2 linked regions of the Homo sapiens genome follow. The protein of the gene in region 1 purifies or fractionates together with the protein of each later gene. This does not show direct contact. Each region holds a gene or a part of one and is shown in the gene's direction. Other genes may lie near its edges.

Region 1 (3,821 bases):
CTGATTATCATAGGGTGAGGAGCAAACCACACATATTGAAAGGCACAACAAAACTAGCTTGCTTCTTCAAGAAACTGATCAGTGAAGGGAAGGAGTAATATATTAAGGCCAAGAGAGGGTATCAGGATTTTTAAGTTTCTTTGCCTGTACATGAAATAGCCCTGGCCTTTGTCTTCTCCCATTTCTAATTTACTTTGTTTACTTTTCGTTGAACTTCTGACTCTTTTGCTCATCTTTGCCTTTAATCTGTGATTTCTTTCATCTGTTAGTAGGCAGCCCTCTCCTCAACATAGAATTATCAGGTATTACATTTGTATGGACCCGGAAATCATCCAACTTGGTTTGTTAGAATAGTGGGTAAATTGAGCAGGAAGCACATTCCAGGGATGATTTGGAGGCAGAGTTTGGAGGGGACCTCTTCTCTGCATGTAATGTAGTATGAACTTCAGACTGCTTAGGCTTGAATACTGGTCCACTGTTGTTAGCTGGGTAAACTCGGACAAAAGTTATTCAATCTTTCTAAGCCTCAGTTTTATTATCGTTAAAAACAGGGTAATATTAATAGACCCTCCATGGTGTTATCATGAAGATTCAATAGATGACTCATTTAAAGTGCTAGCCACAAGGTCTGGCTTGTATTAAATGCTCAAAGATACTAGCTATAACTATTTATAAAGTGCAGGAGTAGTGTATGGACACGGTGGTAATGTTTTTGACTGCTCAGTGACGTTTTCTTCCCTCTTTCTGATTCTCAGGTTCTAGAATTATGTTATCCCAAACAGTAGCCACTGGCCACATGTGCCTGTTGAGCACTTGAAATGTGGCTAGTCCAAATTGAGAAGTTGTGCTATAAGTGTATAATACACACTGGACTTCAAAGACTTATCTTTAAAAAGAATGTAAAATATTCCATTAAAAAGTTCACATTGATTACATGTTACAATGACATTTTAGATATAACGGTTTAAATAAATTATATTGTTAAAATTAACATTATCAGTTTTTGTTTTGTTTTATTTTGTTTTCTGAGATGGAGTCTCGCTCTGTCGCCCAGGCTGGAGTGTGGTACCTCAATCTCGGCTCACTGCAACCTCCACCTTGCGGGTTCAAGTGATTCTTGTGCCTCTGCCTCCCGAGCGTCTGGGACTACAAGCGTGTGCCACCACATCCGGCTAACTTTTCTATTTTTAGTAGAGATGGGGTTTCACCATGTTGGCCAGGCTGGTTTCAAATTCCTGACCTCAAGTGATCTGCCCACCTCAGCCTCCCAAACTGCTGGGATTACAGGTGTGAGCCACCACGCCTGGCCTGTCATCAGTTTTTAAAGAATTTTTCTTAATGTGGCTATTAGAAAGTTTAAAATTGTCTATAAGGTTTACATTATATTTCTTTTGAGCAGTTTTATAAAGATGAAATTACAGAGCTACTAAATTAAAAAGAAGTAATATATTTCTATATTTTATTTACCTGCATAGCATGAGCCCCTCTTCTTCCTTTATAAGCCAACCAGATTCTGCTGACCTTCACTGGGCAGTTGAAGCCTCGCCATCCACACACACTGATCCTTGTGAGCAACCATCCATCACTAGGGTAATAAAATTATATCTGTGGCCAAACTTTAGCCAGCTTCTGGCATTGCCCAAAAAAACTTAGCTACAGATTAATCCTCAGAAAGCAAACAACCAACAGGGAAGAAACAAACTTCTTATTTTTTAAATTCCTTTGGCAGAGATACTTGATATCAAATTGGAGGTAAAAAGGAGGAAAATTGCATATGGCAAATACCACCAGTAGTCAATCCAGTAGACGTTTTCTCCTTCCTCTTTGCTAATAAAAGTCCCAATTTTGTTTAAGGCTACAAACAAAACAAAATAAGGTATAAGAGGTGGCTATATGACATAGCTTCAGCCAATGAAATATAGACAAAAGTGTCATAGTGAGTCTTTTAGAAAGGCTATCTCGATTTAAAAAAGGACGGGTGGGGACAAACTCAACAGATGCACACATTTTATTTTACTTTTTGCCTTCTGTCTTTTCTATCGGGAATGGGGACACAATAGTTCAAGGTGGAACAACAACCTTGAGACCTGAGGGTAAAGGTCACATACTATGAGTGGGCCAGGAAGCCGGAAGGAGCTGGGCACCTGATGACTTCCTCAGTCAGCTGCTCTACCTCTCCACTTCTTGTTACTTGAGCCAAACAAACCCTACTTGCTTCAGTCACTCTCTCTGGATTTCTGATAAACACAGCTAAACACAACCCCAGCTGAAACCCGCAGTCCAGAAAATGCTAATGTTCACAATCTGGCCCTAAAATCTGCTGTCCCGAGGACATTTTCACTTCCAAGAAAATCTGTCACTATTGGCCTAAAGCAAATAGTTATTTTGGCTCATGCAATGGGAACAAGCATGAATTATTTGGCCTTGGCTTTTTATGATCCAGCATATATAATAGTCATTTTTAAAAGATATATACTATATATCTATACATCTACATAAGTATATAGGTACAAATATATATTTCCAAGAGGGCAGGGGCTTTATCTGTCGTATTCATCATTTTATTTCCAGGCCCTAATAAAGGCCAAATCTCCTTTTCCTTAAGGCTGACTTCTCTTTCCAGTGATCTTCACAACATAATTTGCTACCATTCAGAGGCGGCAACATGGAAAACATCCTAGGCTAAGTTACAGGTGACCTAGAGCTAATCCTGGCTCTACCAAATAAATAGTTCTGAGACATTGAAACATTTCTTCAAATAAAAATTCGTGCAGAAATTCAGTGTACTAAGCAGGTAAGATTAAAGAGAGAAAACCCGCAGCCCCTTCTACTGGGTCACAGGATAGTAAGAAATCCCCAAGAAATTTAATAGCATTAAAGACAAATTTAAAGTAAACCTCTCACTCAGTTATATAGATTTGAAGGAATGTTGTCATGTTCATGTATAAAAAATGTGACTTGGTATAGGGTCAGAAATCAGTACACATAAGGGCTTTGGAAATAACCTGTATTTGGGGACTATATAAGCAAGTGTTTTAACACATGGGCTTTGGATGACCTAGGACCAGTTAACTATTCCATTAACGGGTTTGATAATCCCAAAAAAACACAATCCTGAATGTCATAATACCAAATGTGGAAATCCCAAAAAGATCTAAATCCCCAAAATATAATTCTGGAAAAAATAATTTAAAAGACATTTCTTCACATTTATAAAAGGAGATTTATTTTAGAAACATATAAAAACATGACAGAGCATTTCACAGGCCACTTTACATAATAAAATAGGCAATAGTAACATTTGTATTTTTACAAGCATAAACATACAGGTATACTAACAACAGTCATATGGGTATAATGTTATAAGTGGATGAACCATATTCATAAAGAAATAAGTCAAGATTCAAAATGTATAAATGCATAACACTATGGTAATTTTATGCAACCAGCTTTATAACTGTAGTCATCTGAAACACCATGACGATAACCTAAGTCTTTTGATAAGATTGATCCAAAACTTCAATGAGTCACTACGGCATATGCAATTGCACAAAGAGCTGAGATCTTAAGAAATTTTATCTTTCACAAATGCAGTTGTACAAAAAAGGACATCTCTTCATTTATTGGGGAAGTTTCAACATTTTTACATACACAATGCTTACACACAAAGTCAATGTTGTGATAATGCACTTTTGTGGAGTCAAATTGACAAAATATACATAAAACAAATTAGAACTTTCTGAAAGTCTTTATACAATTTATACTCCAGTACTGCAAATGATGTGAAGATGAAATACACAGCATAGCAAATTGTGAAAAGT
Region 2 (3,821 bases), on another chromosome or scaffold:
GGGGATGGGGGTTCCTGGGTCTGGTTCTAGCTCTGGGCTCTCTGGGCACAGCGGGTGGCGGCCGCATTCCCAGGGGACGTAGACCGGCTGCGGCGCATGTCGCTGGTGGAGGAGGGCGCAGTGAAGCGCATCAACATGGCACACCTGTGCATCGCGGGGTCGCACGCCGTCAACGGCGTGGCGCGCATCCACTCCGAGATCCTCAAGAAGACCATGTGAGCCCCGCTTTCCAGATCCCGCCCCTCTCTAGGCCCCACCCACTCCACGCCTCTGTCACACAGAAGCCCCGCCCTTCACCGACCACTCTCTGGTCTCTGGGCCCTGGCGCCTTTCACAGGTGGCGTCATTCTTACAAGCACAGCAGCCCCTTCCAGTGCCGCCCTGTCCTGAGATGACCTCCTCTTACACACAGCACCCCCAACCTTCCCCAGGTCTGCATTCCCTGCCCCAGGCCCCTTTCAGCAAGACACCAGGGTAGGGGCCCCAGGGCAGAGGCCTTCATTGTACAGGGGTGAGTGGTGACCCTCGTCCAACCTCATCCTGCAGCTTCAAAGACTTCTATGAGCTGGAGCCTCATAAGTTCCAGAATAAGACCAACGGCATCACCCCTCGGCGCTGGCTGGTTCTGTGTAACCCCGGGCTGGCAGAGGTCATTGCTGAGGTGAGAGGCCACCGTAGGGCCAGTAGAGTCAACATGGGTCCCTGCAGGGATCAGCTGGGTATGGTCGTGTAGGTGGTTCACTGCATCAGGGCTCCCAGCTGAAGGCTGAAATCCCTCCTGCACTGTGTTCCCCAAGCCTCGCATCCACCTGGAGGAGGGACACCATCTTAATTGCATGAGGGTGCTCTGTGTGCTAATGGAGGCCCTGGCTGTGGAGGTGAACACAGCAGAGGGAGTCATCCATGGGTCACATCTGAAGTGAGCCTGGAAGGGGGCAGATATCTGGTAGGGAAGGCGCAAGGTCATGCTGGCGTTAGGAAAAGGCCAGGAAGCCAGGAAGGCCTGCTGGGGTCAGGTGGGGTCAGCCATCAGAGCTCAAGGACGGGAGGGGAGGAAGGTGCATGGATGCCCCGTGCCCCATCTGGGCGGCTGGAGGAGGAGGGGCTGGGAGGGCCCCCAGAGCAGCCTGCTGGGTGAAGGGGGCTTGGCTGACCTGGAAATGGCCCCTTCTGTGTTGGGAGGAGGGAGGACATGGGGATGGGCTTGGCTGAGAGCCGTCTTCCCATAGCGCATCGGGGAGGACTTCATCTCTGACCTGGACCAGCTGCGCAAACTGCTCTCCTTTGTGGATGATGAAGCTTTCATTCGGGATGTGGCCAAAGTGAAGCAGGTGGGGAGAGATGCAATGTGGGACAGCTGTGCTGTGTGGAGAGCGCTGGAGGGGCCAGATGTCTGGGTCAGGCGTGGCAAATAGAGCTCATCTCTCCTGCCAGCCCAGGCCGTTGGTGGAAGTTGCCTGGAGTCTGTGGTGGGAAGGCATCATCTGACCTCACATGAACAGTGCTGACATTGATTAGCAATGTCTGCCCTGGTACAGGAGTGGACAGAAGTAGCCAGTGAGCCTCCTGGTAGCCATCCTCCTGGGGCTGACTGGAGTGTGGACTGTAGGATTTCCTGAGGCTGTGGCCTGTTGGTGAGCCCTTCCCCGTCTCTGCCTCCAGGAAAACAAGTTGAAGTTTGCTGCCTACCTAGAGAGGGAATACAAAGTCCACATCAACCCCAACTCACTCTTCGACATCCAGGTGAAGCGGATTCACGAATATAAACGACAGCTCCTCAACTGCCTCCATGTCATCACCCTGTACAACCGTGAGTGGCAGCCACTCTACCCTGTCTCTCAGTGCTCCCCCGTGTTCCTGCGGCATAGTACATATTGCCCAACCAACATCTCCTTTGGACTTGGGACTACTCTTGGGACATGGAATTATCCCCATTTCACAGATGGGCAAACTGAGGCTAAGAGAGCATAGCAAGTGATTGTTCGAGTCAGGCCTACGGTGTCCCAGCCCAGCCTCTGTCAGGAGCTACTACCCAGAGGGAAAGGTAGGCCCACTGGATCCCTCTCGTTTCTCCACAGGCATCAAGAGGGAGCCCAATAAGTTTTTTGTGCCTCGGACTGTGATGATTGGAGGGAAGGTGAGAAGCCAGGCTCCAGCCCTGGGCTCCCGTCCTTTGATATATCCAGGTTGAGGTCAGCCCAGCTGAGTTGCAGGATAGGGGGTGGGGGGCCAGGCAGTAGAGCTGACCCCAGACTTTGTCCCCTCAGGCTGCACCTGGGTACCACATGGCCAAGATGATCATCAGACTCGTCACAGCCATCGGGGATGTGGTCAACCATGACCCGGCAGTGGGTGACCGCCTCCGTGTCATCTTCCTGGAGAACTACCGAGTCTCACTGGCCGAGAAAGGTGGGTGCTGCCAACAGGGACCCTAGGGAGGCTCTGACTAGTTCAGTCTCAGGAAGAGGTATCAGTCGTCTCTTCCTGGGATACTTGTACTTGAAAGAAGAATCTGGAGAGGGCAATGCTTAAACCATGAGGAGGCCAGGCGCAGTGGCCCATGCCTGTAATCCCAGCACTTTGGGAGGCCAAGGTGGGTGGATCACCTGAGGTCAGGAGTTCGAGACCAGCCTGGCCAACATGGTGAAACCCCGTCTCTACTAAAAATACAAAAATTAGCTGGGCGTGATGGCAGGTGCCTATAATCCCAGCTACTTGGGAGGCTGAAGCAGGAGAATCACTTGAACCTGGGAGGCGGAGGTTGCAGTGAGCCGAGATCACGCCATTGCACTTCAGCCTGGGCAACAAAAGCAAAACTCCGTCTCAAAAAACAAGAGGAAACAAAACAAAGCAAAAACCCCATGAGGATGCCCTCTAATGGTGGAATTTCAGGCAGTACAGGGTGAAATTACCTTCAAATCTGCAACAGAGGTGGGGAAATCCAGGTTGGACCTAGATGGTCAAGAATCAACAAGAGGTAGAGGGCAGTGGGGGTGCGGTGTGAGAGGGAGGCTTGGCTGGTGAAGACTGGGAGTTTGGGGTGGGGCGACTCTGAGTCCAGCTATGCCTGGGGCCAGCCTAATCTGAGAGTCCCCAGCTGGTGTGAGGGTCTTCCCTGAGTTGACTTGTCCCCCTGCTGCCACCCCACAGTGATCCCAGCTGCAGACCTCTCTGAGCAGATCTCCACTGCGGGCACTGAAGCCTCAGGCACCGGCAACATGAAGTTCATGCTCAACGGGGCTCTGACCATTGGCACCATGGACGGGGCCAATGTGGAGATGGCAGAAGAGGCGGGAGAGGAAAACTTCTTCATCTTTGGCATGCGGGTGGAGGATGTGGATAAGCTTGACCAAAGAGGGTATGGGGGTCAGGGTTCACGGGCAAAAGACACCCAGGTGTGGCTGCTGGAGAGTGGTGCTGGGAGCAAGCGGCACGTCTGGAAAGACTGGTCCAGGCCCAGCAAGGTCTTGGTCATGGCCAGCAGGATTCTGGGAAACTTTAGAGGGCGCTTACAGCAAATAAGGTTAATGAAATTGGAAAAGAAAGAAGTAATATAGAACTGAAGGAAAAGGAAGAGAATATTATATCAACCCTAAGAGATAATATTGTTTGGGAAATGGAAGTAAAAAAATCCTTGCTCTACGCCGGGTGCGGTGGCTCACACCTGTAATCCCAGCACTTTGGGAGGCCAAGGCGGGCGGATCACAAGGTCAAGAGATCCAGACCATCCTGGCTAACACGGTGAAACCCCATCTCTACTAAAAATACAAAAAATTAGCCGGGCGTGTTGGCAGGCGCCTGTAGTCCCAGCTGATCGGGAG

What was found.
Region 2: the proteins of FAM81B (region 1) and PYGM purify together in Homo sapiens (affinity purification with mass spectrometry; one large-scale study listed by BioGRID and IntAct). This does not show direct contact.

Annotation. Positions count from the first base shown.
Region 1 is NC_000005.10:95,408,150-95,411,970, forward strand, and holds part of FAM81B (protein FAM81B), read left to right. Parts: intron 1-2,618; exon of another isoform or gene 2,619-2,794; intron 2,795-3,821.
Region 2 is NC_000011.10:64,749,913-64,753,733, reverse strand, and holds part of PYGM (glycogen phosphorylase, muscle form), read left to right. Parts: intron 1-51; coding exon 52-215; intron 216-546; coding exon 547-661; intron 662-1,229; coding exon 1,230-1,331; intron 1,332-1,662; coding exon 1,663-1,810; intron 1,811-2,078; coding exon 2,079-2,137; intron 2,138-2,267; coding exon 2,268-2,409; intron 2,410-3,150; coding exon 3,151-3,358; intron 3,359-3,821. UniProt on the Homo sapiens protein: Allosteric enzyme that catalyzes the rate-limiting step in glycogen catabolism, the phosphorolytic cleavage of glycogen to produce glucose-1-phosphate, and plays a central role in maintaining cellular and organismal glucose homeostasis.